Linked DNA regions of Homo sapiens. The protein of the gene in region 1 interacts with the protein of each later gene in a pairwise test. Each region holds a gene or a part of one and is shown in the gene's direction. Other genes may lie near its edges. The genes, in order: ELOVL4, FA2H, TMEM254, TMEM11, CMTM7, SYNDIG1 and FAXDC2.

The links.
Region 2: the proteins of ELOVL4 (region 1) and FA2H interact in binary tests that used the Homo sapiens proteins (3 or more experiments, as listed by UniProt).
Region 3: the proteins of ELOVL4 (region 1) and TMEM254 interact in binary tests that used the Homo sapiens proteins (3 or more experiments, as listed by UniProt).
Region 4: the proteins of ELOVL4 (region 1) and TMEM11 interact in binary tests that used the Homo sapiens proteins (3 or more experiments, as listed by UniProt).
Region 5: the proteins of ELOVL4 (region 1) and CMTM7 interact in binary tests that used the Homo sapiens proteins (3 or more experiments, as listed by UniProt).
Region 6: the proteins of ELOVL4 (region 1) and SYNDIG1 interact in binary tests that used the Homo sapiens proteins (3 or more experiments, as listed by UniProt).
Region 7: the proteins of ELOVL4 (region 1) and FAXDC2 interact in binary tests that used the Homo sapiens proteins (3 or more experiments, as listed by UniProt).

What each region holds. Positions count from the first base shown.
Region 1 is NC_000006.12:79,916,404-79,920,477, reverse strand, and holds part of ELOVL4 (very long chain fatty acid elongase 4), read left to right. Parts: intron 1-930; coding exon 931-1,058; intron 1,059-3,594; coding exon 3,595-3,870; 3' UTR 3,871-4,074. UniProt on the Homo sapiens protein: Catalyzes the first and rate-limiting reaction of the four reactions that constitute the long-chain fatty acids elongation cycle.
Region 2 is NC_000016.10:74,764,691-74,768,764, reverse strand, and holds part of FA2H (fatty acid 2-hydroxylase), read left to right. Parts: intron 1-4,074. UniProt on the Homo sapiens protein: Catalyzes the hydroxylation of free fatty acids at the C-2 position to produce 2-hydroxy fatty acids, which are building blocks of sphingolipids and glycosphingolipids common in neural tissue and epidermis.
Region 3 is NC_000010.11:80,081,406-80,085,479, forward strand, and holds part of TMEM254 (transmembrane protein 254), read left to right. Parts: intron 1-234; coding exon of another isoform or gene 235-336; intron 337-435; coding exon 436-539; intron 540-739; coding exon 740-799; coding exon of another isoform or gene 800-803; exon of another isoform or gene 804-812; intron 813-4,074.
Region 4 is NC_000017.11:21,203,790-21,207,863, reverse strand, and holds part of TMEM11 (transmembrane protein 11, mitochondrial), read left to right. Parts: intron 1-4,074. UniProt on the Homo sapiens protein: Plays a role in mitochondrial morphogenesis.
Region 5 is NC_000003.12:32,447,153-32,451,226, forward strand, and holds part of CMTM7 (CKLF-like MARVEL transmembrane domain-containing protein 7), read left to right. Parts: intron 1-2,301; coding exon 2,302-2,400; intron 2,401-4,074.
Region 6 is NC_000020.11:24,546,035-24,550,108, forward strand, and holds part of SYNDIG1 (synapse differentiation-inducing gene protein 1), read left to right. Parts: exon of another isoform or gene 1-2,595; intron 2,596-4,074. UniProt on the Homo sapiens protein: May regulate AMPA receptor content at nascent synapses, and have a role in postsynaptic development and maturation.
Region 7 is NC_000005.10:154,829,803-154,833,876, reverse strand, and holds part of FAXDC2 (fatty acid hydroxylase domain-containing protein 2), read left to right. Parts: intron 1-2,954; coding exon 2,955-3,076; intron 3,077-4,074. UniProt on the Homo sapiens protein: Promotes megakaryocyte differentiation by enhancing ERK phosphorylation and up-regulating RUNX1 expression.

The sequences.
Region 1 (4,074 bases):
ATAAGGAATACTCAGCCTGTATAGGTCTTGTTGGTTCTTATTCAAAGGAAATTTTATATAGCCTTGTTAATGTTAAAGAGGATCTAAATTCATAGCTTGGCCAAGATCTGCCTCCTGTCTTTTCAGATGCCTGTAGATTAAGGATGATTCACATTGTTGAGCTTGATGCAGATTATTCCTCTGAGGAGGATCCAGGGTACAAGTCATTATAGTATAGTTCACCTTGCTGCTTTCCATTGTCATATTATGATAATTGGCAGCTTAGGAATTCATACATATATTATTGGGGGCCCAGTTTAAAACAATACAGTTAAAGGCAACTTCTGTAATTTTAAAAGAAAATTAGTAAATCTGAACTGACTTAGATCACTTTATGACAAAAATTAATTATTATTACATCTATACCTTGATTAAATTAATATTCTGAAAAGAAAGAATGTCATTGAGTTTGACTGACTGGAATATCTCTGTAGATTTATCTATATTAAATGAATTATTCAATGTGTGTAGTGCTGTCATATTTTAAACTATTTAGAAACCTAAGAAATAAGTACTGTTTTGTTGCAGATATATATATTGGCACATCTAAAGGCAAGAATAGTAGAATTAAAAGTAACATAGGCAACAGTTCTAAGGGCCTATTTAAGCTCACTGGAGTACTCCATTTGAAAACCTACAACTGTGAAAGTCCTTTGCATTTGAACATACATTTTTATTTATATGGTAAAACCTCAAATCTAAACTTTAAAAATATCTAGCTTAATCTGAAGGGAAAACTTTTTCATTAGTACTACTTTATATTTTTCATTTCTAATCTGTACTCAAGATTAAATATTAAAAAATAATGTGTATTCATTTATTGTACATCTCAGTGGCTTACTGCCTAATAAAATTTTCTGTATCTTGTAATTACCTGTTGTTTTTCTAAAGCATTTTTTGGAGCCCAGTTGAATTCCTTTATCCATGTGATTATGTACTCATACTATGGGTTAACTGCATTTGGCCCATGGATTCAGAAATATCTTTGGTGGAAACGATACCTGACTATGTTGCAACTGGTGAGTTAAATGCTTCCAAAGTTTCTTCTGGTAAAATACTGAAATTGTTTAAATTTGATTAATTTTAAAGTGCAATGTCATTTTAGACAATTTTCTATTATGAAATTAACTTTATCCTCCAGCTATATCGCAGTTATGCCCACTTGACTCTAGATGACCTATTCATAGACTTATTGGTCCCAGCAAATCTTTGTTTTTATAATATGCTTAAAAGACTAGACATAGCCCTTACTCCTCTAAGGAAAACATTCTCTAAAGATGTTTGTGGAAAGGATGATTAAAGATCTAAGCACGCTACAAAGTACGTAGTATGAATAGAAAAATAATATGTATTTTTTCCCTACAGGTGATTTTCTTAACTTAAAATTTTATTACCTTTCTTCATCTTGTCCTTGCTTAAAAATTTTGTTTTTTATTTCATTTTTCAGTCTTTAACATATCTCATATATTTAGACTAAACAGCTGAAAAGAAAGCACATAGCCAAGGAAGGGGTGGGGCAAAGGAAGGGAATAAGGGCAAGAGAACTCCTTGTAATTCTCTAAAACACTGTCCTTAAGAGAGCAGAGACAGATATTTTCAAATGGTGGTCTTTAGTCCAGACAGTTTTCAGCACATCCCGCTAGTAAGACTGTTTGTGGCAATCTGAGTGTGTGCATTAGTGTACCTTTCAGATGCTAGGCACTAGCCTGTAATCAAACTGGAAATTCAAAGCCAACCTGGTAACTATTTTTCAAGCTTTAGAATTTATTATAATTTGCTTTAATCATAGCATGTGCACAATTTTATCAGTGGAATCACATTTGGAAATAATATTCATCTTTGCTTTAAGTTGCTAAACAGCTGGCTAACCAAACAGGAAGCACAACTTTTGGGAAATGCTGGGTGCGAAGGATTCATTTGTAACCGGAGTGGTATAGGAAGCTTCCTCCAGTTTTTGTGTAAAAGCTGTTAACACAGTTTGTGTAATTCATTTCTCTCAGTAAGTAGTAAATGGACCTAAGAAAATGAAGAGGTGATCAAAATCATGTGAATTAGTCCTATCTGGTTTGTTGGAGCCTACACCTGGCTCTCCTTGAGTGATGCCATACCCAATCACACCCTTATACACACCCTTTTTGGTGATGCAGCTTCTAAAAACCATTGTGAAACCACAAGTTCTTCAAATTAAAATATTTGCCAAGGAAAATTATAAAAGTTTAATATAGTATAAATTTTTAGCTTACATGGCATACATTATTTTAATATTTAAAATAAGTAATACTGATTATTTTAATCAATAATTAATATTTTAAGAACAATGCTATCCTTAAAAGAGAAACCACAATTGTCCATTTCAAACAGGATGTTGAGTTTGTATTTCCAAGCCAGAAGTTCCCACAACAGTTAGTCATATAAGTTAATTGTATAAAAAGTTAACCCTTGTTAACATTATGTCTTGACCCATTCTTTTATTGATACATCAGAATCTATTTCATTTTAATCATCTCACTTTGGGCTTTTTTCCTTTTAAAAATTCTTAAAGTTGAAAGTGATTCTTTTTGTATTTATTCTGAAATATCTACTAAATTTTATCCAAATATTATTTTTTTCTTTTTTTGGGACGGAGTTTTGCTCTTGTTGCCCAAGTTGGAGTGCAATGGTGCAGTCTGGGCTCACTGTAACTTCCGCCTCCTGGGTTCAAGCTATTCTTCTGCTTCAGCCTCCTGAGTAGCTGGGATTACAGTCATGGACCACCACACCTGGCTAATTTTTTGTATTTTTAGTAGAAATGGGGTTTTACCATGTTGGCCAGGCTGGTCTTGAACTCCTGACCTCAGTTGATCCACCCGCCTCGGCCTCCCAGAGTGCTGGGATTGCAGGCATGAGCCATCGCACCTGGCCATCAAAATATTAGTTTTTAAAGGATAGTGTTCGTTCAAATAAAAATTTACCTGCCTACTATCTGTAAGAAATAAATGAGCCATTTTGATAAGCTCATTTTAAGTATGTGTATCTGCTTGCTGACAATTTGATAGAAAGAAACCAATGTAAAATGTGGGAGGAAAACAAAATTGAAGAGCCTACAATACTATTACTTTACTCTCCTAGGCCATTGATTCCCTTTCATCAGATAACATTATTCAACACATATTCATTGATCCTGATGCTGTGCTGAGGACTCAAGAATCACCGATGGGCAAGACAAAGCCCTGCCTTCTAGAGTCATTTTCTAGTGGAAAGATAGGCAATAAAGAAATAACAAATACAGAAGACAATTTCAAATAGGTATAATTCTCCTTAAAAAAAATGCAGAAAGCTCTTTGGTTAATGGGATTGGGAGGGCCAATTGAAATTGAAGTCTTGTCAGAGAGTCCTTACTGAGGAGATGGCATTTGAGTTGTGAATGAGGAGCTAGCCATGGGAGCCAGAAAACAATAAATTTTGCACAGTGTGGCAAAATTTGGGCCTGTGATAGCTATGTAGAAGATGCCGATGTTGTTAAAAGTTGTTTACTATTCAGATTAAATGTTTTGTGCTGTCATTTCTGTTTTTCAGATTCAATTCCATGTGACCATTGGGCACACGGCACTGTCTCTTTACACTGACTGCCCCTTCCCCAAATGGATGCACTGGGCTCTAATTGCCTATGCAATCAGCTTCATATTTCTCTTTCTTAACTTCTACATTCGGACATACAAAGAGCCTAAGAAACCAAAAGCTGGAAAAACAGCCATGAATGGTATTTCAGCAAATGGTGTGAGCAAATCAGAAAAACAACTCATGATAGAAAATGGAAAAAAGCAGAAAAATGGAAAAGCAAAAGGAGATTAAATTGAACTGGGCCTTAACTGTTGTTGACAGTGAGGAAAAACTCCCATATCATATAAAATTTCAGGGAAAACAGAAGCAAAGGAGAGCTTGGGGGTGGGGAGAAAAGACAAATGTGCTCTATGTCCTAGTAACTCTTAGACTGAGTAAAGTGTTAATACCATACCCAGATGTTTTATTTATGAAGTTTTTATTTTAAACATTTTT
Region 2 (4,074 bases), on another chromosome or scaffold:
GCCATTCAGAGCTTAAGGGCTTGAATAATTAAATGGGGAGGGACAATAAGGAGGAGATCTAAGTGCAGAAAGACTTGGAGTTTCCACCCTACCCAGGACCGGGAACATCTTGAGCTCAGCCCATCTTGGAAAGCCGGTCTGATAAAAACTGATGCTTGGGGAATTTGCTGAACTGCCGCCACCTTCTGAGCAGAGTAGAGCCGAGAAGTCGACTTACTGGAGGGGTTGAGATCACTTGGCCTCTAAGGGGGCATCCCAGGGGAGCCTGCCTGAGCAATCAACAGTCACTGCCCTCTACCACCTGCAGGGGCTTCTACACTCTGGCCTGCTGTGGTGCCAGTCGAGTCTCACCTGGAGGACGAAGCTAGGGCCAGCTGGTGGGGCATCCAGGGCCCAGGTCACTGCAGTTCCATGGCCACCCCAGGGTCAGCACAAGCTCCAGGAGTGCTCTCTGGTGTCACCCCACAATTCAGTGAATAAAGAGGCTTTGAGACCCAGAATTGGGAAGAGGGTCAAAAATTAGGATTCTCTGGAGGAAATAAAAAGAAACAAACAGGATTCCTAGAAATACATGAGAGTAATTGTCTTTGGAAGTATTCCCGGGAAATAACCCAGACTGATGCTTCGGCAACAGCATTCATCATCTTCGCTTATTTTTTTTCTTATGACACATGCTCCTCATTGGTCTGTATGTAGTCTTCATTTATTTAGACAGGTGATAAGCATCCCATGCGCTCTGAAACCCACCACATCACAGAAACAGCCCTTGCTGGCGTTACCAGGACCTTCGCCTTCCTCCACCCGGTGGTCAGTGCTCACCTTACCTTGCATGGCCTGGCAGCAACTGGTGACACCATTGATCACCCTTCCTCCCCTCCAGTACACTTTCTTCACCTGGCTGCTGGATGCCATACCCTTTTAGTTTTCCACCTGAATTCATTTTTGATTGCTTCTCTGGCAAATTATCACAAACTCGGTGGCTTAAAGCAACACACATTTACTCTCTTACAGTTCCAAAGTAAAAAATGAATCTGCAGGGAAGCATTCCTTCTGGATGCTCTAGGGGAGATTCTTTTTTCCTGCCTTTTCCAGCTACTGGAGGCTGCCTGCATTCCTTGGCTCTTGGCCCAGCCAGCAATCTCATCATGCCAGCCTCTGCCTCTGTTGCTGCGTCTCCTCCTACGACTGATGCTCCTACATCCATCTTCCACTTAGAAGTACACTCGGGGTCACACTGGACCCACCTAGATGATCCAGGATAATCTCATCTCAAGATCTTTCACTTAATGACATCTGCAGAGTCCCTTTTGAAAAGTCAGGTAGCATATTCACAGATTGTGGCTCACACACCATCCAGACCCCGGTTGTGACTTCTCAGTCTCCATTGTTAGTTTCTCTCACTTCTCATTTCCCAGAAAGGTGCACAAAGTTTAAACATACAGCTCAGTGATTTTTTTTTTTATGAGTCTCCCTCTGTCACCAGGCTAGAGTGCAATGGCACAATCTCGGCTCACTGCAACCTCCGCCTCCCAGGTTCAAGCAATTCTCCTGCCTCGGCCTCCCAAGTAGCTGGGATTACAGGCACACACCACCACGCCCAGCTAATTTTTGTATTTTTAGTAGAGACGGGGTTTCACTATGTTGGCCAGGATGATCTTGATCTCTTAACCTCGCGATTTGCCTGCCTCAGCCTCCCAAAGTGTTGGGATTACAGGCGTGAGCCACCATGCCCGGCCAATTTTTTTTTTTTAACCTAGGTAAACATCTCTGTTGCCACCACCCAGATCGAGACCTAGAACTCTTCCAGCACCTAGCACAGGCTCCTGCCTCCTCCCAGGCAACAGCGCCTCCCAGAGGCAGCCACTGTTCTAATCTCTATCCCCATAGGATAGTTTTGTGAATCCCTCATGTTTATATGGGCATCATGCACTCTGTTGATGGCTGCTTTCACTCAGTATTATGTCTGGGGTATTATTGATGTTTTTCTTACTCTTCACAGTAATCGTTTCCATTGGCTACTCTGTCCTAGAGAATCCATAGGCAGAGGGAGAAAATGGGGAGTAACTGGAGCAAGAAGAGCCAATGGCTTGGACCACCTGTTGATCTTCAGGAGCCCCCCCCCTTAGTTTTCCTTCTGGAACATTCCCCTCACTTCTGCCCTAGTTTGGCTAGAGCCTCGCTACACTCACTATTGTCGCAGTCTCTTGGGCAGGTCTTCCTCTGTTCCCCATTGTCTCTGAACCTTTCTGAAGAGAACTTGATCATGTTATGGCAGGGCTCCTAAGTATTCAATGGCTCCCTATTGCCATATCCCTTAAGTCCAGCTTGAATCCTCTTTCTTCCACAGAGATTCTCCTTACCTCCTCACCTATATCTGCTTTTTTCCCCTTCACTCAGACTCTCATAGCTCTTTACCTGAACCTATCTTACAGCATTCATAACTTTTTTTTTTTTTTATTGAGACAGAGTCTTGCTGTGTTCCCCCGGCCCCAGGCTAGAGTGCAGTGGCACGATCTCAGCTCACTGTAACCTCTGCCTCCCAGGTTCAAGTGATTCTCCTGCCTCAGCATCCCGAGTAGCTGGGATTACAGGTGCCCACCACTATGCCCAGCTAATTTTTGTATTTTTACTAGAGACAGGGTTTCACCATGTTTGCCAGGCTGATCTTGAACTCCTGACCTCACCTGCCTCGGCCTCCCAAAGTGCTGGGATCACAGGTGTGAGCCACCACACCCAGCAGATAACATTCTTTCTTATTTAACATATTTCCACTGTGGCTCTTGTCTTCCCTATTGTTTTGTCTACTAATCTGTAAACTCCCCAAGGACTGGACTTGTCTAGTTCACCTGGATTTCTCTAGCACACACAGGCACCACTGGTACATACCAATAGGTACTAATAAATATTTGAATGCTCTGGGTATGGGCTCATACCTGTAATCACAGCACTTTGGGAGGCCAAGGCAGAAAGAGAGCTTGAGACCAGGAGTTCAAGGCCAGCCTGGGCAGCATAGTGAGACCTTAGGTCTACAAAAAAATTTTCCAACATAGCCAGGCGTGGTCATGTGTCTGTAGTCCCAGCTATTTGGGAGATTGCTTGAGCCCAGGAGGTCAAGGCTGCAGTGAGCCGTGACTGCACCATTTGTACTCCAGTCTGGGCAGCAGAGTGAGACCCTGTCTCAAAAAAATGAATGAATGAATAAATAAATGTTTGAATAAGTGGATGAATGAGTTGCTTGGAAAACTGAGGTACGTGCATAATTGAAAAGGAAATATTAGCATATGCAAGATACTTTAAGAATGAAACATAGCCGGGCACGGTGGCTCATGCCTGTAATCCCAGCACTTTGGGAGGCCAAGGCAGGCGGATTACCTGAGGTCAGGAGTCCGAGACCAGCCTGGCCAACATGGTGAAACCTCGTCTCTACTAAAAATACAAAAATTAGCCAGGTGTGGTGGCGCATGCCTATAATCCCAGCTACTTGGGAGGCTGAGGCAGGAGAGTCGCTTGAACCCAGGAGGCGGAGGTTGCAGTGAGCCAAGATCGCGCCATTGCACTCCAGCCTGGGGGACAAGAGCGAGACTTTGTATCAAAAAAAAAAAAAAGATTAAGAAAAATCTCTTTTCTGTGTCTTGTTAAAAGGTTGGGAGTTGATGGAAAGGATGGAGAACCATCAAGCAAGTCACTCATTTCTGCCTTTGTCCTCGGTTCTTTGCAGCCGGAGAGAGTTAGCAAAACCTCTCCCTTAGCAGGCTCTTACAGTCTACCCGTCCCATGAGTCTCCTTCAGGGGTTAGAAGTGAAGTTAACCATAGAAAATCTCAATCAAGACCCACATTGCTCTCAGGGTTAAGACCCCCCCAGTCCTCATGTAGCTATAAGTACCTGGGTGACACTCATAGGTATGTCCCAGGTTGCCTGGGTTTCTAGTCCTGTTTACTCTTTCTGGTGTCTTTTCATGCAAAATTCTCTAAAGCACATAGACTCAGAACAGTGGTTCTCAATCTTCTCTAATTGCTCCTATTCTTTTTTTTTTTTTAAACTTCTAAGTTCAGCAATACATGTGCAGGTTTGT
Region 3 (4,074 bases), on another chromosome or scaffold:
CCTGTAATCCCAGCACTTTGGGAGGCCAAGATTGGAGAATTGCTTGAGCCCTGGAGTTGGAAACCATCCTGGGCAACATAGTGAGACCCCATCTCTATATACAATTTTTAAAAGTAGCTGGGCATGGTGGCACACACGTGTAGTCCCATCTACTTGGGAGGCTGAGGTGGGAGGATGGATTGAGCCCAGATGGTGGAGGCTGCAGTGAGTCATGATCATGCCACTGCACTCCAGCCCCAGCAGCGGAGTGAGACCCTGTCAAAAAAAAAAGAAAGAAAGAAAATAGAAGCCAAGAATGGAGACCCAAATGACTGTTCAGAGTTTCTTCGGTCTGTGGTAATTTTTTTACTGTTTCACAGCCTTTCTCAAAAACAAAAACAAAAAACAGGTTTTAAGTGACCTAATAGGTATTCTGTGTCTCTGCTTCTCTTTCAGTGGGTTGTCTTCTGGCCTCAGAGTATCCCTTATCAGAACCTTGGGCCCCTGGGCCCCTTCACTCAGTACTTGGTGGACCACCATCACACCCTCCTGTGCAATGGGTAAGGAGAGCTGCACAAGTGGACTGTGGACACTGGAGCTCTGGTCTCATGGGAAACCTGGAAGGCCTGCAGCTGCCTTTTGGTATCTAAGAGTAGTGTCGGTTCACCTTAAGGCACTTTTCTTTTTGAGATTGCTGTGTTAGATTTCATCAGCAGATAACTATCACCTTAAAAAAGATTAACCTTTTTTTTGGTTTCAGGTATTGGCTTGCCTGGCTGATTCATGTGGGAGAGTCCTTGTATGCCATAGTATTGTGCAAGTAAGTCTTTGAAGTAGGTGTTTGTTGCCTTTCTCTTAGTAGCTAATATAAATTGAGAGCAGCCACATTTAAATAGTTCACACACTTGTAGGCTGAGAATATTCTCAGGGTAGAGCGGAATCCCCATGCCTGATACTGAGCCTGGAGCAGAGGCAGTACCCAGTAAATGTTTGATGAATGCATTCATTTTGTTTATGTTGGTTAACCAATTACTTAGTTATCTAATTCAGATGACTTTTGTTATTTTTTAACAAATTTTCTGGGTAGCCCCAACTAGATCAAAAGACTAGGAATAGGAGCCTGGCTTCTAGTTTACAAAAGAGCTAAGTGACTGACCTAGGCCGATGACTCACAATCCTCGTTTTACAATTGAGCCACCTGAGGAGCTTTTTCAAAATACACACGTCTGGTTTCCAGACCCAGAGATTCTGATTGGGTAAGTCTTGCCTCAGAGATAGGAATGTGCTCTTTTTAAAAGCTCCACAGATAATTCTAGGATGCAATGCTAGTTAAAAGCCCCCAAACCAGACCCCACTCAGGAGATGCTAGTATAGGTTAATGCTATGTGAGAATACAAGAAAAAATTATGTTTGTACTTTATATAAGCATATACAGAAAGTATGGTACAATGAAAAACATGGTTATGGAAATGCCAAATTGCTTCTTTCCAATTAATTTCTGGTCAAGATAATAATTAATTGAATTAATTTCTGGTCAAGATATACTATCACCTCTATTATTTTTCTATTCTAAAAGTGGAAAATAAGATACTGTATTGCTATTACTATGTTTCAATAATAAAAATAATATTGATTGGGTACTGCTATGTCAGAGACTGCTAAGTATGTTAAATAGAATGATCTTACTCTGTTTTCTTGTTTATTAAACAAATAAGCTAGACTTTTTTTTTTTTTTTTTTTGAGAGGGAATCTTGCTTTGTCACCCAGGCTGGAGTGCAGTGGCGCAATCTTGGCTCCCTGCAATCTCTACGTCCTGGGTTAAAACGATTCTGCCTCAGCTTCCCCAGTAGCTAGGATTACAGAAGCCCACCACCATGCCTGGCTAATTTTTGTATTTTTATTAGAGACGGGGTTTCACCATGTTGGCCATGCTAGTCCCGAACTCCTGACCTCTCAGGTGATCCGCCTGCCTTCGCCTCCCAAAGTGCTGGGATTATAGGCATGAGCCACTGTGCCTGGCCACAAGCTAGACTTTCTATGAAGAGGAGCAGAAAGTAACTTTATTCTTTCTTTCTCACCCCTCTCCAAGTAAATTTGTTTTGTAGATCGTTCCCCACCTTCCACCGTATCTCTGGATGGAATTTCAAACAGATCGTAGGATTTCCAGTCACCATCTGATATTATCTATTCTAGCCCAGTCTATTGTTAAAACTATAAACTTTCTTCTAATTCAAAATGTCTGTTTTCATCCAGCTGGGGCTCAGGAGCCTGCAGTGGGGAGAAGGGTGCAGTTGATATCTTCTCTTGCACTTCACCTTCTCCTCTATTCACTAATAATCGCTGCTTGTGGTCCCTTGGGATAGTGGGAATAGTTAGGGAGAACAAGGCTCAGCCTTAAATAGCTGCTGCTGGCCAGGTGCAGTGGCTTACACCTATAATCCTAGCACTTTAGGAGGCCAAGGTGGGCAGATCATTTGAGACCAGGAGTTTGAAACCATCCTGGCCAACATGACAAAACCCCATCTCTACTAAAAATACAAAAAATACTAAAAAAGCCAGGCATGGTGGTGCGTGCCTGCAGTCCCAGCTGCTCAGGAGGCTGAGGCACGAGAATCGCTTGAATCCGGGAGGCAGAGGCTGCAGTGAGCCGAGATCGCACCACTGCACTCTAGCCTGGGTGACAGAGCAAGACCCTTTCTCAAAAAAAATAAAAGTTAAAAAAAAACAATAAACAGCTGCTGCCTTGTGATCAGGCAGCTAGGTACTGTGTATATTGCATATCCAGTATTGGCTCTTTCTCTCTAGAGGGGATGTGGTAGATTTTTGAGACACTACTCATCACCAGGGATCTCCCTTCTGCAGTTTCCTTGATGGTTCATTCAGACACCCCCTCCAGCATGCCACTTGCAGTTTCACCCTCAGAGTCTGTGTTCTAGGGAGAATTACCCTTTTATTGAGATCACTTCCGTCCTTCAGGTGGGTCTGTGGTACAGGGTCCCTTTTAAACCTACTCATGTTCAGTGCCTTCTCCAGGATCTGTATGGCTCACAGTAAACAACTTCCGTATCCCTCCAGTGGGATAATCTACAAGTGCATGCAGTTATCAGTGTGGCGGTGCTTCCTTCTCTCCCAGCAAGCAGACCAAACAGTGTTTACTCTTTGGAATCAGATATTAAACCCTTCCCCAAATTCCAGAGACTCATGTCAAGCTCTACAAATGGTTCTGTTGAGGCCATTCTCTGGGCTTGACTTGTGGGAAATGCCACAGCCCACTAGGACCTCTTTCCAATGGCCTCTGCAGCATCGCAGTAGAATCTCAGATTGGAAGTGTCCGGTCCAGCCCCTCAACTTGGAATGTAGGAGTGCGTGACACCTATTTTGTTGTTGGCATTTGGAGTATCTGATGAAAACCAAAATACAAAAATTTTTATTTTTATTTTTATTTATTTTTTTCTTTTTTGAGACGGAGTTTCGCTCTGTCGCCAGGCTGGAGTGCAGTGGTGCAATCTCAGCTCACTGCAACCTCTGCCTCCCTGGTTCAAGCGATTGTCTGGCCTCAGCCTCCCAAGTAGCTGAGATTACAGGCGCCCGCCACCAAGCCTACTTTTTGTATTTTTAGTAGAGACAGAGTTTCACCATGTTGGCCAGGATGGTCTTGATCTCTTGACCTCGTAATCCGCCCACCTCGGTTTCCCAAAGTGCTGGGATTACAGACGTGAGCCACCGCACCCGGCCCTCAAATTTAATATACAATTTTTTTGAAGGGCAGAGGGAGAACAGGCATAGAGGTTAGGTTACTCTTATGTTCTTGAAATCATTTATGGTCTAACATGTTAGAATGTATCATTAGTCACTATGAATCAGAATAAATATTCCTTTTGAATTATGAGATGAGTTGGGTACGGTGGCTCATGCCTGTAATCTCAGCACTTGGGGAGGCTGAGGCAGGCGGATCACCTGAGGTCAGGAGTTCGAGACCAGCGTGCCCAACATGGTTGAAACTCTGTCTCTACTAAAAATATGAAAAAAAAAATTAGCTGGGTGTGGTGGCACATACCTGTTACCCCAGCTACTCAGGAGGCTGAGGCAGGAGAA
Region 4 (4,074 bases), on another chromosome or scaffold:
CTGGCTGGAGTGCAGTGGTGTGATCTTGGCTCACTGCAACCTCTACCTCCTAGGTTCAAGCGATTCTCCTGCCTCAGCCTCCTGAGTAGCTGGGATTACAGGCGCCTGTCACCACACCTGGCTAATTTTTGTATTTTTAGTAGAGACGGGGTTTCACCATGTTGGCCAGGCTGGTCTGAAACTCCTGACCTTAGGTAATCCGCCCGCCTCGGCCTCCCAAAGTGCTGGGATTACAGGCGTGAGCCACCGCGCCTAGCCTGATCTATTTTCATGTATAGCACCTTTGATACTTTGTCTTATATATCTTGCCTTAGGGGTTTTTAAAATTATATTATTGAGACGGACTCTCACTTTGTCACCCAGGCTGGAATGCAGTGGTGCAGTCTCGGTTTACTGCAGCTTCTGCCTCCGGGGTTCAAGCGATTCTCCTGCCTCAGTCTCAAGTAGCTGGGACCACAGGCATGCACCACCACGCCCAGCTAATTTTTGTATTTTTAGTAGGGACACAGTTTCACCACATTGGCCAGCCTGGTCTTGAAGTCCTGACCTCAGGTGATCTGCCCACCTCAGCCTCCCAAAGTGCTGGGATTACAGGCGTGAGCCACCATGCCCAGCCTTATCTTAGATTTTTTAAAGTTATATGTTAAACACATCAAAAGTTATGTTTACAATATGTGAAAAGTAATAAACATGCCACAGCATGATGGCCCTTAAAAACATAATGCAAAATGAAAGAAGCCAGTTGTTGAAGACCACGTTACAGGATTCCATTTAAATGAAATACCCAGAATTGGCATATCCAGAGAGTTGGGAAGCCGACTGGTGGTTGTGGAGGGCTGGGGAGATGTGAAGGGACCACTAATTGGTACAGGGTTTCTTTCTGAGATGATGAAAATGCACCAGGATCAGTTGTGCTATTGGTTGCACAACTTTGGGAAAGCCACTTCATCGTTCACCTCCGATGGGGGAGTTGCTCTGTGAATTCTATCTCAGTAAAGCTGTGAATTCTATCTCAGTAAAGCTGCCATTAAAAAATACAAATCAGGCCAGGCATGGTGGCTCATGCCTGTAATTCCAGCATTTTGGGATCACCTGAGATCAGGAGTTCGAGACTAGCCTGGCCAACATAGAGAAACTCTGTCTCTACTAAAAATACAAAGTTAGCTGGGCGTTGTGGCACGTGCCTGTAATCCCAGCTGCTTGGGAGGCTGAGGCAAGAGAATTGCTTGAACCCAGGAGGTGGAGGTTGCAGTGCTCCGAGATTGTGCCACTGCACTGCAGTCTGGGTGACAAGAGTGAAACTCCGTCTCCACAAAATAAATAAACAAATAAAAATAAAGAAAATGAGACCAGGTACAATGGCTCTTACTTGTAATCCCAGTGCTTTGGGAAGCTGAGGCTGGCAGATCACTTAGGAGTTCGAGACCAGCCTGGCCACCATGGTGAAAACCCTGTCTCTACTAAAAATACAAAAATTAGCTGGGCGTGGCAGCACATGTCTGTAGTCCTAGCTATTTGGGAGGCTGAGGCAGGAGACTCGCTTAAGCCCGGGAGGCGGAGGTTGCAGTGAGTCGAGATAGCGCCATTGCGCTCCAGCCTGGGCAATGGAGCGAGACTGCCTCAAAAGAAAAGAAAACGGAAAATAACAAGTGTTGGTGAGGATATGGAGAAATGGGAACCCCTGTGCGCTGCTGGTGGGAATGTACAATGGTGCAGCTGCTCTGGAAAACAGTATAGAGATTCCTCAAAAAAACTAAAAAATTGAACTGCTATATGATCCAGCAGTTCCACTTCTGGGTATATATACCCCCCCCCCAAAAAAAGCAGGGACTCAAAGAGATGTTTGTGCACCCATGTTCATAGCAGCATTATTCACAATAGCCAGTGGTGGAAACCGAAGTGTCCATCACAGATGAATGGATTAACAAAATGTGGTTTATGCATACGGTGGAACATTACTGAGCCTTAAAAAGGAAGAAAATTCGGATACATGCTACAATATGGATGAACCTTGAAGACTCGTTATGCTCTGTGGAATAAGCCAGACACAAAAGGGCATATACTATATATGATCCAACTTGTATGAAGTACTTGTATAGTCAGATTCATTGGGGTAGAAAGTAGAATGGTAGTTTGCAGGGGCTTGGGGTTGGTGGGGAATGGGGGGATCATTTCATGGGTAGAGTTTCAGTTTGGGAAGGTAAAGGAATCCTGGAGGTGGATGGTGGTGATGGTTGGTACATCAGTGTGCATGTGCTTAGTGCCTCTGAACTGTACACTTAAAAGTGCTTACGGTGGTATATTTTACGTGTATTTTACCACACTTTAAAAAAGGCAAAGTGATAGTTGTGTGGGCTCCCCACCCAGCGCGATAGAGAACTAGCGTTACCCTGGCCTGCCTCCTCCTGCAGCGGAGACCCTGTGCCCCAAGTGCACCACAGCACCCTTGCTGTCCTTATAGTTGGCTTTCAGTGGCACGTCCCTGAGCTCTGCCGCCTTAGAATGTGTGAGAGTTGTATCCCTGGCTCAGGCCACTGGAACTGATTCATGTCACTAATGGAGGAGGTGCGATTCTGCTCTCCCCGCTCCTGTCATCTTTTGCTCTCACCGAACAGTTCTGCTCTGAACCTTCTTGTGCGGCTCTTGCCTTTTGGGGAGACGCCTCCAGACTGTGGCTGCTGGGACAGGCACAGGCTGCCCACATCCCAGAGGGGCCGTGGAGTTGCCCTGCTGAGTTTTCACTGTGGCCGCCTTTTAACTGGAATGCTAGTGTTGCCAGGGGATTCCTTTGCTGACTGCGAGAGCTGATTGAGTTGGGCTCAAAAGTGGAGAGATGAGGGCCTGAAGGCTGACTCTGGTTGAAGGCTGAGGGAGGAAGTTCAAGATGCCCACTTTATGAGTGCCTGCAAGCTATCCTGAGGCGGCAGAGAGCGGTCCCATTCAGTGTCTGCAGCAGTCCCCCTGAGGTGCTGGAACGGGCTGACCCCTGCTCCCAGCACTAAAGGCTCAGAGAATCCAAAGCTTCCTCAGTGCTGGCATGATGTGTTTAGGATCATGACACTGATCCTTTTACTTTTCTTCTTCCATATGTTAAGACCCACTTCCGACAGTGATCTTTAAGTACCAGAGATCATGCCAGATTCAAAAGGATCAAAAGTCATTTACTAGAAAGAGCCTCCCTTCCTTTTCTTTCCTGAGCCCCTCAGTTCCCTCCCTAGTGACCAGTCATAAAAATCAGGTCTTTGTGTATCCTTTCAGAAGTGTTCTGTGCATATAAAAGCAAATAGAGACTTTTAAAAATACACTACGTATAGCATACTGTAAACACTCTTCTGAACCCTGCCTTTTCCCCTGAACTTGCTTTCAGTTGGAGACTTTGCTGTTACTGCTGCTACCTTTTTCTCTTTTTTTTTTTTTTTTTTTTTTTTATTGAGACGGAGTTTTACTTGTTGCCCACGCTGGAGTGCAATGGCATGATCTCAGCTCACTGCAACCTCCGCCTCCTGCGTTCAAGCAATTCTTCTGCCTCAGGCTCCCAAGTAGCTGGGATTACAGGCACGTGCCACCAAACCCAGCTAATTTTTGTATTTGTAGCAGAGACAGGGTTTCACCGTGTTAGCCAGGCTGGTCTCGAACTCCTGATCTCAGGTGATCCGCCTGCCTTGGCCTCCCAAAGTGCTGGGATTACAGGCATGAGCCACTGCACCTGGCCACTTTTTCTTTCTTTTTTTTTTTTTTTTTAAACATAGACTCTATTAATTGCTCTCTTACTGGTCATTTCACACCTGCAATGAAAAGCAAAAATACAGTCCCTTAGGAAGCCCAGGGCTCAAAAGATTCCAACTAGCTCTTACTTAAAAAAAAAAAAAAAAGTCCATATAATTTAAAAAAAAAAAAAAAAAGGAAAAAAAAAGATCTCCCATGCACCAGGGTTCAGATCACCCAGTTCCTAAAGCCCATGGCCTTACCAGTTAGGGGGCAGCTGGTGATGCTCTGCAGTGGTTTGAGATAACCTTCTGACTGGGTTCTTTCCTTCATTAGGTTTTGTTTGACCCACAAGCAGAAGCAAGCCAT
Region 5 (4,074 bases), on another chromosome or scaffold:
CTTATGATTTTTTTTCTTTGATCCATTCATTATTTAGGAATATGTTGTTTAATCTCTATATATTTCCCTGATTTCCCTCTGCTCTTGATTTCTAATTTGATTCCATTGTGTTCAGAGAACATATTTTGTAGTCCTTCTTACCTTTATTGAAGTTTGTTTTATGGTCTGATATATCGTCTATCCTGGACAATGTTCTGTGTACATCTGAGAAGAATGTACTTTTATACATTGTATATTTGTATATTATACTTTTGCTGGATAGAGTTTTTATAGAGGATTTTTAGGTCTAGTCATTTTATGGTGTTGTTTGAATCTTCTATTTCCTTGTTGACCTTCTACCTGGTTGTTCTATACATTGCTGAAAGTAGGGATATTGAATTCTCCAACTATTATTTTTGAATTGTCTGTTTTTCTCCTTCATTTTTCTCATTTTTCACTTCATGTGTTTTGGCTCTTTTATTAGGTGCATATACGTTTATAATTGTTATATCTTACTTACGGATTCAGCTTTTCATTGTTATAAAATGTCCCTCTTTATTTCTAGTAACTTTTTTTTGTGTTCGATTCTATTTTGTCTGATGCAGTGTAGACACCCTGGCTTTCTTTTGGTTGTTGTTTGCGTGCCATTTCCTTATCTTTGAATATAAAGTCTCTCTCCCATAGACAGCACATACTGTAGTTATTTCTCGTTTTGCTTTGGTTTTTTAATCCAATCTGACCACCTCTGCATCTTGATTAGATTGTTTAATTGTTCACACTTAACACTATTACCCACTGTTATTTTGAGAGAAATTTCTTTTGTGTTTCTAAGTTCTAAGGCCCCTTTCAAAGTTATGGCATTTTTTTCTGCTTCTTTTGAGAACAAATTCCTCTGGGGCTTACCTGATGCAGATACTGAACAAGCAAAGGAGAGAACAAAAGCTCAGGGACAAGCACAAGAGTGGGCTGCATGAGGAGTGAAAGTTGGAAGGACAGACTCAGCCACACATTTTTGGCTGAGATACTATTTAAGTACTTCCGGTTAGGATTCTCTCAAGTTGGTTTTCTCTGCCCCATGTCATCCTCCTCTGTCTTAATAGTTGAGAATCTTGGAGGTGGGGAACTTGCAGTTACTCATCTGTTCTTCAGTTAAAATCTCTGTGATCTATCTTGTGATATTCCTTTCTAGTCACTAAGGGAGAAACCAGGGTCTTTGATTTTACATAGCTTTGAGAGGAGCTACAGCTTTAAATTGGAATGCTTTTCCAAAATTTAATAGCTGCCTGCCCTAAGGGGCAGAACTTCATGAAGGAATGATTTCTAGATTCTCATTGAAGACAACTGAAAATGGATGCACCCTGGATTCAGAGCAAGCACTGGAAGTGGCCCCCAGCCTCAGTTCTTCTCGGATCTGATGTTTAATGGGGAAGAGAAAGGGTGAGATGGAAGCTTTCCCTCGCCACTGAAAGGCCCATCTCATCCAGGGCCTGCAAGGATGCTGATTAATCATGATGAGTGAGTGGGGTGGAAATGCATGGCCCATGGGCCAAGGCGAGAAGCAAAGGTGGAACCAGTCCTGCCAGTGGATTCATTGGCAGAGCTTGGCCGGGAGGGCACTCTTCTGGAGAAAAGAGAAGAGGGAATGACAGGAAAAAAAAAAAAAAAGGCAGGAAGGCTCAGGAGTGAGAAAGCCAGCTGCCACCACACATCCACAGGCACTTCACAGAAGTGCCACTGACCTCATTCTAGAGTCTGAGTCTGACGGGACCCTGGGAATGAATACCTCTCAAGTCCACACTTGGGGCCATTCACAGAGTGGGCTGACACTCCCATCAGTCACACAAGACCAGCACATTGTTAGCCCAGAACTTTCTCCGAAGCAGAAGAGAAAGGCAAATATCTCTTTAAGGTACTTTGCTTCTCCGAGCTGGAGCTTTGTTTAAACTCTCCAGCCGGGAAGTTGCAAGAAGCTCGTTTGCTTTTTAGTAGCTTTAGCCAGAGGTTAAGGCACTGTCCACAGATTGCTCTCAGGAGTAGAGGAGTCCTTAGTGGCTATCTCTGCTCACACCAGAAGCTTCCTTTCTCTCTGTCCTCTTCCCTTCCTGCCTGCCCGGCATCACTTCTGTCTTGCTTGGCCTCTTCCTGGTCAGCCCGCATGTTGGCTGCCTGCGAGCGGCTCTGCTCATCCCATTTGCGTGTTGCAAGGGAGAAGAGGAAGCGTCACTCTCTCCCTTTCTTTTCATGTCTTCTGATGCCCAGTTGCTCTTCCCGGACCAGAAATGGACGGCCCTACCCACTTATTTGCTTTGTTTCTGCCCCCAGGAACTTCTGCACTATTTAATCGGTACCCTGCTCCTCCTCATCGCCTCCATTGTGGCAGCTTCCAAGAGTTACAACCAGAGCGGACTGGTAGCCGGAGCGGTGAGGATGTTTTGGGGAGCCTTTAGGAATGAATTCTTATTTAAAATGCTCATTTTCTTCCTGATGGGGGAAGAGAAGGGCTTGGTTTCTGGGGCATTCCCTTCATAGAATCAATACCTACCTTGATCCAGCCATCAGCTCTCTCCAAAGAGCCTTAAGCAGAGGCGTACAGTCCCAGAAGGTGGATTGTCAGGGCTGCCAGCAAATTCATAGACCCCAGCAGCCCAGGCCTCTCTCTCTTACAGGCACTACTGAAATCAGGGGGCCAGGCGGGTTTTAATTCACACACCCACTCTGATCATTTGCTCGTTGGCTGCCTCAGCACTATGCAGAGACAGATGCTGGAGCCTCTTTTGGGCCCAGTGGGAAATGTACTGTGATCAATTAGAGATACATGCCATGAGCCTGAGCTTTGCCATTCCTGATTTTTAACAGTATTCAGGCCAGGAAATAATACTCCTGTATCTTTCAGAGGCAAAAATTGATCCATCTGATAGCCATAAATAGAAGTAGATGGAAATATACAAAAATACAGTCCTGTGAGATATATACATACATATATATGTATATACATACAGATGTATATGCTATTTTTTTAAAGATTCATAGATTCCTGTCATCTGATTTCTGATTTAGCTAACTATTTATAGTTCAGTGGCCTGTGGGCCAACACTGATTTGCTTCACTGATGAGCAGACAAGATTTTAAAAATGAGTTTTGAGAAAAGCTCTCTCAAGCCAGATGTGGTAGCTAGCATGCACCTGTAGTCCCAGGCACTCGGCAGGAATGCTTGTGCCCAGGAGTTCGGTCTGGCCTGGGCAACGTACTGAGACCCTGTGTCTTAAAAAAAGAAAAAGAGAAAAAGAAAAGCTCTCTCTGTATGTGACATTCATTGTCTTTCACTTACGTATATTACCAAAATTTTCCAGACTTTGGCCTGGGAGTGGGTTGGCTCCTGGAATTCCACTGAGGGATGGAGTCTCTCCTCTGAAGGTCAGCATGGGGGCAGAAGGTCACTGTAGAGGGTGGCCAAACCTCCCAACACTGATGCTCCACATGGCCCTCCCACAGCCCACCATCACACCTCTCTGCCCCCTCTCTCTGCTGTCTCTGAAGAGAGGGATGGTTGCCCCCTGAAGCTTAACACCTGCCCAGCTACAGTGCAGGGTACTGGAAGAGGCACACAGGAGACCTGTGCCCACTGTGTTTCCGGGCCCACTTGAGGAGATTCCCACTGTGTTTAGTAATTCAGGTTGCACATAACTGTTTAGCCCTGGAATCTCTATAGCTAACATTCATCATATGCTGTCTGTGTGCCTAGGACCAAACCTGGGCTATGAGGAAGTTAGAAGAAATTTTTAAAATATGGTCCCTGCTTATAAGAAAGTGGTCATCTAGCTTAGGAGACAAGACACATGAAACAATTAGTAAACAAGGCGTTGTAGTCTAGAATAGCATTCTGTAGCGATATAATAAACTGTTCAATTATGCAGTGCAGACAGTTGGGGACCGGGATGGTATATAACGTGCTAATTGTGCAGAACAGACAATGAGAGGCCGGGACAGGCTCTAATAGGCTAATTATGTGCTGTAGACAATTGGTACAAAAGGAGCCCAGGAAAAGAAACCCGGGGAAGAAGTGGATGTGGGCTGGTGGGGGCAGCTGTTTATGTA
Region 6 (4,074 bases), on another chromosome or scaffold:
GGAATGGAGACACATTATGGCTGCTGCTGCTTCTACATGCGGCTCAGGATGCCAAGGAGGATTTCAGAGCCTCACCACGGTGGTTAACTTCGTCCTTTTTCTCTGAAAACAAAGATTTTCTCAGAAACATTCTTACAGTATAGCTATGGTGCTTTTCATTCCCTTCTTCGGTAATTAACAAAATACTAATGACTGGTTAGAAGTGTCATTGAACATGCAGTAGCTGTTCTTTGGTTTACTGTTTTCTCCATTCCATTAAATAATAAAGGGTCATGTATTGGTTAGCATTTGCTGCATAACAAATCACCCCCAAAACACAGTGCCTTAACAACTCTTTCTTCAGCTTATGATTTCTGAGGGTCGGCAATTGAGCTGGGCTCAGCTGGGTGATTGTTCTGCTGGTCTCACCTGGGCTCACTCACTTGTCCATAGCTAGCTGTGATAGGCTGGGAAGCCAGCCTCTGGTGGGCTGTTGGCTGCAGTGACAGAGGTAACTGCATCACCCAGCTGTCACCCATCCTGTCCCAGGCTTCATTTTGCGGCAGCCAGAGAGGTGGGGCCCACTTTGTGAGGGCTTGTCAAGTCTTTGCCTGTGTCCTGCATGTTACTATCTCATTGACCAGAGCAGGTCCCACAGCCAAGCTCAGTCAGTGTGGGAGAGACTGCTTAGGGTCACAATATAGGGAAGTGATAACAAATTGGGTGCCAGTACTGCAACCACAGAGCCAAAAACCATAGACTTTTGGCATCATTTTTTTTTTCAGATGGTCTAACTGAACAGAATGACAACTACTGAAACAAAAGAACAGTGAATACTGATCTGAGCTCTTTCCAGAAGGCAGTTCTACTCAGCCAAAAAAGAAAAAAAAATGTGATTTTTAACTTCTTTGAGTATTGTATAGCTTCACTTGGTTTATAGCAAATGGATACTGTTTCCCAAATAATGCCGTTTTCAAAAAGCCATTGCCCTGGTTCAGAATGGGGCCCCCTCATTGCCCTTGTTCAGAGGGGGCCACCTCATTGCCCTTGTTCAGGGCCCCTCCCATTGCCCTGGTTCAGAGTGGGGCCTTCTCATTGTCCTGGGTCAGAGCAGGGCCCCCTCATTGCCCTGGTTCAGAGCAGGGCCCCTCGTTTCCCTGGTTCTGAGCGGGGCTCCCTTGCTGGAGCTCCTGGGCACTGGGTGGCTGGCTGTGTTTTCCCCAATCACTTTCCCAAGACAGGTGCATCCCTGGCATTTATGAAGGAGCCTCTCCAGGTCCGAAGAGGTCGGCCTGTCTGACATATGTTTGCAAGGGCATGTGGAGCGTTCAGTTTGCCTTCGAGGTTGTGGTAGTAACAAGAACAGGTTCTATGGCTAACTTTGAGAATATTTATGGGAGGTTCTCAACTATTCGGCAAGTGTTTATGATCTGTCCTGCTCCACCTTAAGTCGCCAAGTAGAGCATGGCTTGACATTAGACAGGTAGATGTAGGGGACCTCTGGGGCTTTGCGGGAGTGCAGAGGTGCCATGCCGCTCATTATCTAGTGCCACTGCGCTCAGGGTGACAAGACAGGCATCCTGTGGGGGTGCCCTCAGGGCATCCTGGGTAGTGATAATTGGGCCTGATGTCCGACAGCCCAGGCCTCTTCCCAGGTATGTGAACACTGCTTCATCCACTTCCCAGCCAGTAGCTAAAAACTGCTGTCTCTGGGAATACCAGCAGTGGGAAGCCACTTCTCCTTTCACACAAATAAACTCAGAGAGACTTCAGGGACAAGTAATGAAGTAGGTCTACAAAATATACAATTTGAGTTTACAGCCATGAAATGAAGTGGATGGAGTCCAGGTGCAGAGGCCTGACCACCCTCCTGCCCTTAGAGATGGTGACCAGATGTTGAATGGCACTTACCTGTGGCAATGCAAAACCTCTCAGACCTGAAGTACATGACGGTCACCACCTAGAAGCGGTGCCCATGGGGGCTGAGCCTTTTCTTCACTGAAGGAAGAAGGGGGAAGGGAACGCTCATCGATGGAGCACCTTTTCTGCCACGCCCTCCAAGTGCACTTGGCCATCGAATCCTCGAAGCGCTTGGGGATGGGTCATGGTGCTGTCCTCATCCTACACGTGGAGAGACAGAAACTTGGGGTGTTTCCAAGATCACACACGTGGCTCTGCTGTCAGCCCTTGGATCTGAGACAGATCTCCTGACTTTAGACTCTGTCTCCTCATGATGATGCTGTTCTTTCTACATTAGGGGGAAAAATGTGTTCCAGTAAACTTCTGTTTCAGCATTATGCCAGAGTCCAAGGACAAAGCAGGAAGAGACGGCACCAGGACTTCACTTCTGTGAACTCTCCGCCAAGCTTTCCAAGGCCTTCCAGTCTGTCTTCCCATGTAAAAACTTGAAAGCTGTTGGAGGACACAGAATTCTATAACTGCAATAGAGCACTTTACATATACCTCAGTCATAAGTATGGAAAGAGGGGCGAGGACTCAACACACATGTGAAGAAAACCCAAAAGCATGAATGAGACAGAACAACAACAAATAGAACAGTTGACCCAGAGGAAAGAGAAAGAGTTCAGAAAATAATAAACAGCATTTTGAAAATTATTTTTAGTATCTCCAGAGAGATTTGAGGTGCTGCTGATTTGGGTGGAAGGAAATTTGGGGGTTTTGTTTTGCTCATTTGTTTGTTTACCTCATAGCACTGGCCAGAACCTCAAATACATTGTTTAGTGTGAGTGAACGAACATCCTTGCCTTGCTCCTGATCTTAGGGGGAGCTTTTAGCTTTCATGATGAAAGGTGATGTTTTTGTAGTTCTTTGTAGACACTCATAATCAGGTATAGGAAGTTCCCTTTGTCACTACTTTGTTGAAGAGGTTTTTTATTTTATTTTTTATTTAATTTTATTTTTTAATAGACAAATAAATGGGATATTCATATTCATGGGGTATATAGTGATGTTTTGATACATGTAACATATGGTGATCAGATCAGGGTAATTAGCATATTCATTATCTCAAACTTTGATCATTGCTTTGTGTTGGGAGCATTCAATAACCTCCTCTTAGCTATTTGAAACTGCATAATATATTATTTTTCAACTGTTTTCATGCTACAGTGCTGTAGAACACTGGAAGTTATTCATATCTAGCTGTAATTTTGTATGTTTTAATACATCTCTTCCTATCTCTCCCTTCCTCCTACTCTGCCCACTCTCTACTATTCTTCCTTCTACTTTTACTTCTATAAAATTAACTCCTTTTAGCTTCCACGAGTGGAACATGCAATGCTTAACTTTCCCTCCTGACTTATTTCATTTAACATAATGTCCTCCAGTTTCATCCATATTTGCTGCAAATGACATAATTTCATTATTTTTTTATGGCTGAATAGTATCCTGTGGTGTTGAAATGGGAGAGTTCCCTGATTCCCCTTGCAGGACGTGGGGTGGGTGTGGTTCACCTGTTCTGTTGCTGCTCAAACCCCTTGCAGGACTGGAGCATGCAGAAGGGCAGGTGCAGAGGCTGGGGCGAGTGCTTTATGCTCTGGCCTTGCAGTAGTGTCTAGGGGTGGGTGACTGCAACCCCACTGTTACAAAGCTCTTTCAGCTTTGCTGTCCACAGACGGCTTGAATACTAACAGGCTCAATGGGCCCTTTGCCTTTTCGCAAGGACAGAGGGCTGGATCCAGAGCTGTTGCCCAGCATCCTGGAAAAATCAGGTCACATACGGGCTTGAAGGATGAATGTGAAGTTTTTTTGAGTGGTAGAGGTGGTTTTCAGTGGGATGGATGTGGAGCCGGGAAGGATACTGGAGTGGGAAGGTGATCCTCCCCTGGACTTGGGCCACCCAGTGGCTGGACTCCTCTCTGACCATCCCCAACCAAACTCCTCTCGGCATTCAGATGTTCCTCCTCTTCTCCCTTTCTCTGCCATGTTGTTCTGCCATCTGTCTATTTGCTGGTCTTCTGGCTTGCTAGTCTGCTTCTGGGTCCTGGGTTTCAGGGTTTATATGGGTGTAGGCATGCGGGCCAAAATACAACTTTTTGGGTACAAAAACAGGAATGCCTTTTCTCACTTAGGGCC
Region 7 (4,074 bases), on another chromosome or scaffold:
CCAACATAGTGAAGCCTCGTTTCTACTAAAAATACAAAAAAATTAGCTGGGCATGGTGGCAGGCTCCTGTAATCCCAGCTACTTGGGAGGCTGAGGCAGGGAGAATCACTTGAACCTGGGAGGCGGGTTGCAGTGAGCCAAGATCATGACACTGCACTCCAGCTGGGCGACAGTGTGAAACTTCGTCTCAAAAAAAAAAGAAAGAAAGAAATATTTAAGATGGGGCTGGGCACAGTGGCTCACGCCTGTAATCCCAACACTTTGGGAGGCCAAGGCAGGTGGATCACTTGAAGTCAGGGGTTCGAGACCAGCCTGGCCAATATGGCAAAATCCCTTTTTCACTAAAAACACACACACACACAAATTAGCTGGGTGTGGTGGTGCGTGCCTGTAATCTCAACTACTCAGGAGGCTGAGGCATGAGAATTGCTTGAACCTGGGAGGCAGAGGTTGCAGTGAGCCGAGATGGTGCCACTGCACTCCAGCCTGGGCAATAGGGCACGACTCTGTCTCAAAAAAAAAAAAACAAAAATTAAGATAGGCCAAGATTAGTGGCTCACACCTGTAATCCCAGCACTTTGGGAGGCTGAGGCAGGCAGATCACTTGAGGCCAGGAATTCAAGACCAGCCTGGCCAACATAGTGAAACCTGTCTCTACTAAAAGTACAAAAAATGAGCCAGGCGTGGTGGTGCGTGCCTGTAATCCCAGCTACTCAGGAGGCTGAGGCACAAGCATCGCTTGAACTCAGGAGGTGGAGGTTGCAGTGAGCTGAGATAGCACCACTGCACTCCAGCCTGGGTGACAGAGCAAGACCCTGTCTCAAAAAAAAAAAAAGAAGTATTTAAATGAAATGTTTCCCTCCCCCATTAAAAAATGATGTCATAGTCTAGAAGGGAAGATAAAAAGTGTCAGTTGCTATAAAGCAAAATGCACCTGAGGATTGTTTTCAACTAGAAGGAGGACTCTGACAATGGGCTGAACATTAAATATGACAGATTTAATGGGATCTTAAGCAGTCATTGAACAATGCAGATTACCTATGTATATGGAGAAGGTGGTAGAAAAACTTTATTAGCTTGAACCTGCAATCTAAAAAAACCTCAAATATTTTATATATGTTAGGTACAATCCTGTGAAAATTACCTATTACCTTGGTGATAAGCCAATATGAGAGAGAGAAAATATTTCCAATTTTAAGTGTTAGAGCTAGAAGAAGTTTAAGATCGTCTTACGGTGTGCTTTTCATCTGTATTCCTCAGGCAGCCTTTGAAGTTCCAAGTAGGTAGACACCTTGGATGGCCCACTGGGTAACCATCAGCCTTTTTTTTCCAAAGTAAAAAATAGTTTATTTTTTCTGGGTATAAAAGTAAATATGGGCCAGGCGCAGTGGCTCACGCCTGTAATCCCAGCACTTTGGGAGGCCGAGGCAGGCGGATCATGAGGTCAGGAGATCGAGACCATGGTGAAACCCCGTCTCTACTAAAAATACAAAAAATTAGTCGGGCGCGGTGGCGGGCGCCAGTAGTCCCAGCTACTCAGGAGGCTGAGGCAGGAGAATGGCGTGAACCCGGGAGGCAGATCTTGCAGCGAGCTGAGCTCACGCCACTGCACTCCAGCCTGGGTGACAGAGCAAGACTCTGTCTCAAAAAAAAAAAAAAACAAAAGTAAATATGTGCTCATTGTTAAAAATAAAAATCAGGCAATTCAAATAAGCATAGAAAGTGTGAAAATCACCCACTGTCTTACCTTCAAGAAATAACCACTGTTTATATATTAGTGTGCATCTTTTATATATTGGGTATATAGTTGTACTTATGAGATACCAACTATTTTTAAATCTTTTTTTCATTGAATAGATTGTAGGTATCTTTCCATGCCTATTAATGTAGCCTTACTTAATACTCTAAGCTTCCCATTCTATTCCATTATATGGAAATACTCTAATCTGTTTAGTCCCTTCCCTACTAATGGGTATTTAGGCTGCTTAAATTTTTTTTTTAATGCTGTGACGGACATTTATGCATACAAACAGACGTGTGTCCTTTTCTTCTTTCTCCCTTTCTGTCTTGGCTCTCTGACTCTCTCACTTTATTACTTCAGTTACTGCCAAATTGCCCTCTAGAAGGTTTGTACCAATCCTACTCCCCTACAGTGCTGGCAAGTATTTTCCAAGTCCCAGCCGCCACAGTTACTTCGGTTGATGGAGCATGAAGGGTGCTGGTGGAGGGGCACAGACATGGAATTAAGCAAAGCCGAGTCCTAGCTGGGCATGGTGGCAGGTGCCGGTAGCCCCAACTATTCAGGAGGCTGAAGCAAGAGGATCACTTCGGCTTGGCAGGTCGAGGCTACAGTGAGCCATGATCACACAACTGCACTTCCAGCCTGGATGACAGAGAGAGGCTTTGTCTCAAAAAAACAAACAAACAAACAACAAAAAAAAAACAACGATGAGTTTTCCACTTATACTGACTAGATGACACCTGAAGTTCTGCTGCTCAGTTAGTAGGATGACAGGGATTAAGTTTCCTGACTGACTCCTAGCCCAGGGCTCACTGTGACCCATACCATACAGAGTACTTCCTTTGCTTCTCCTTCCTTGGCAATTCATAAAGGGTTCAGTGGGCGCAGACTCCCAAATGTCAACCTGAATTCATTTCTATTTTAGAGGGTATTATATATCTTAACATACTTTCATATGTATTTATATGAAAACCACCAACCACCTTGAAGGTTGTCCCTATTTTATGGCTAAGAAAATGGAGACACTCCTTAAATGGCCTGTCCAAGTTCCTACCCAAGACTACAGGTAACCCCTTGGTCCCAAGCCCTAAGACCTCCCTGGCAAAGAAATGTCTAGGATGAAGCCTCAGTCACCACAAAAAAGTATGTTCTGTTAGTCTATGTGCTGTGAGAACCCAAAGTCGCCCTGACTGTTTCTGTTTCCCAATCTCAGGTGCCATCCAAGTGCCTTGTCTCTTCTTCTGGAGCTTCAATGGGCTTCTATTGGTGGTTGACACAACAGGAAAACCTAACTTCATCTCTCGCTACCGAATTCAGGTCGGCAAGAATGAACCTGTAAGTGTTGTTGCAACTTCTGGTCAAAGCACAGAAAGCAAGAGCCAAAGCCACACTCTCAGAATTCTCACCACTGGCCCAGGAGAGACCTGGCCAGTGTGAGCCAAGTTATTAGCAACAAGGCTCCCCCAGTTTAGAAGGTTAAAGAGAGGAAATAATTTGCCCACAACCTCAGAGTCACTCAGCTAGTGGCCAGTCAAGACCAGTGTTCTGGTCTCTTGATTCCTGGCCCAGGCTCTGGACCTGCCTGTGGTGCCCCATGGCACTGTGGTCAGCCTGGCACTGAGAAGGCAGGCAACTCCACTTTACCCATAGGAATGGAGACAGCAATGGGTGGATGCTAGAATATGGGTAACAGCTGTTGTTATGAGAGAGGGAGACAGCTGCGAAAACAATGGATAACTCCACTGTAATAGACGGATAGTATGGATTCTGAATGTGTGGGCGGTGGCTGTCTTTTAAACAAGTTCTCCTTCCGAAATACTCAATTCGACCAATAGTGAAAGGCACCAGGGCAAATCCATGATAAGTGAGGCCCAGACCCTGCTTACAAGGAACTCTGACTTGCACAGCGCCGGGAAGTGGGTCCCACTGTTCCCTGAGTCTGGCTCGCCTTTTCCTACACAACAAGGAAGAAGTTGATTCTGAAACCCAGGTTCTTTACCCAGCTCCACCCAAACCACATCCTGGCTTCTTTCCCAGACAAGACAATCATCTTTTAGTCATCTGCCCAGGTGTCTGGGTGAACCACCTCAGCTCTCAGGTCCTTTTGCCCCAGCCCAGCACTCCAGAAAGGCAAACAGTGCTCTTGACCCACTCCTTTGAAGTGGGCCCCTTCCTGAACTGGACTGCTGGCCTGGCTTACTGTCCCCCTCACTTGGGACAACAGCTGCCAGCCAGGCTTGGGGGCTTCCTCCAGGCCCAGCTTGGCAGGACATGAATCAGAGCCTAAAGTGTCAAACCCTGTGCTTGGTCCTTGAGAACACTTCATCTGTCAA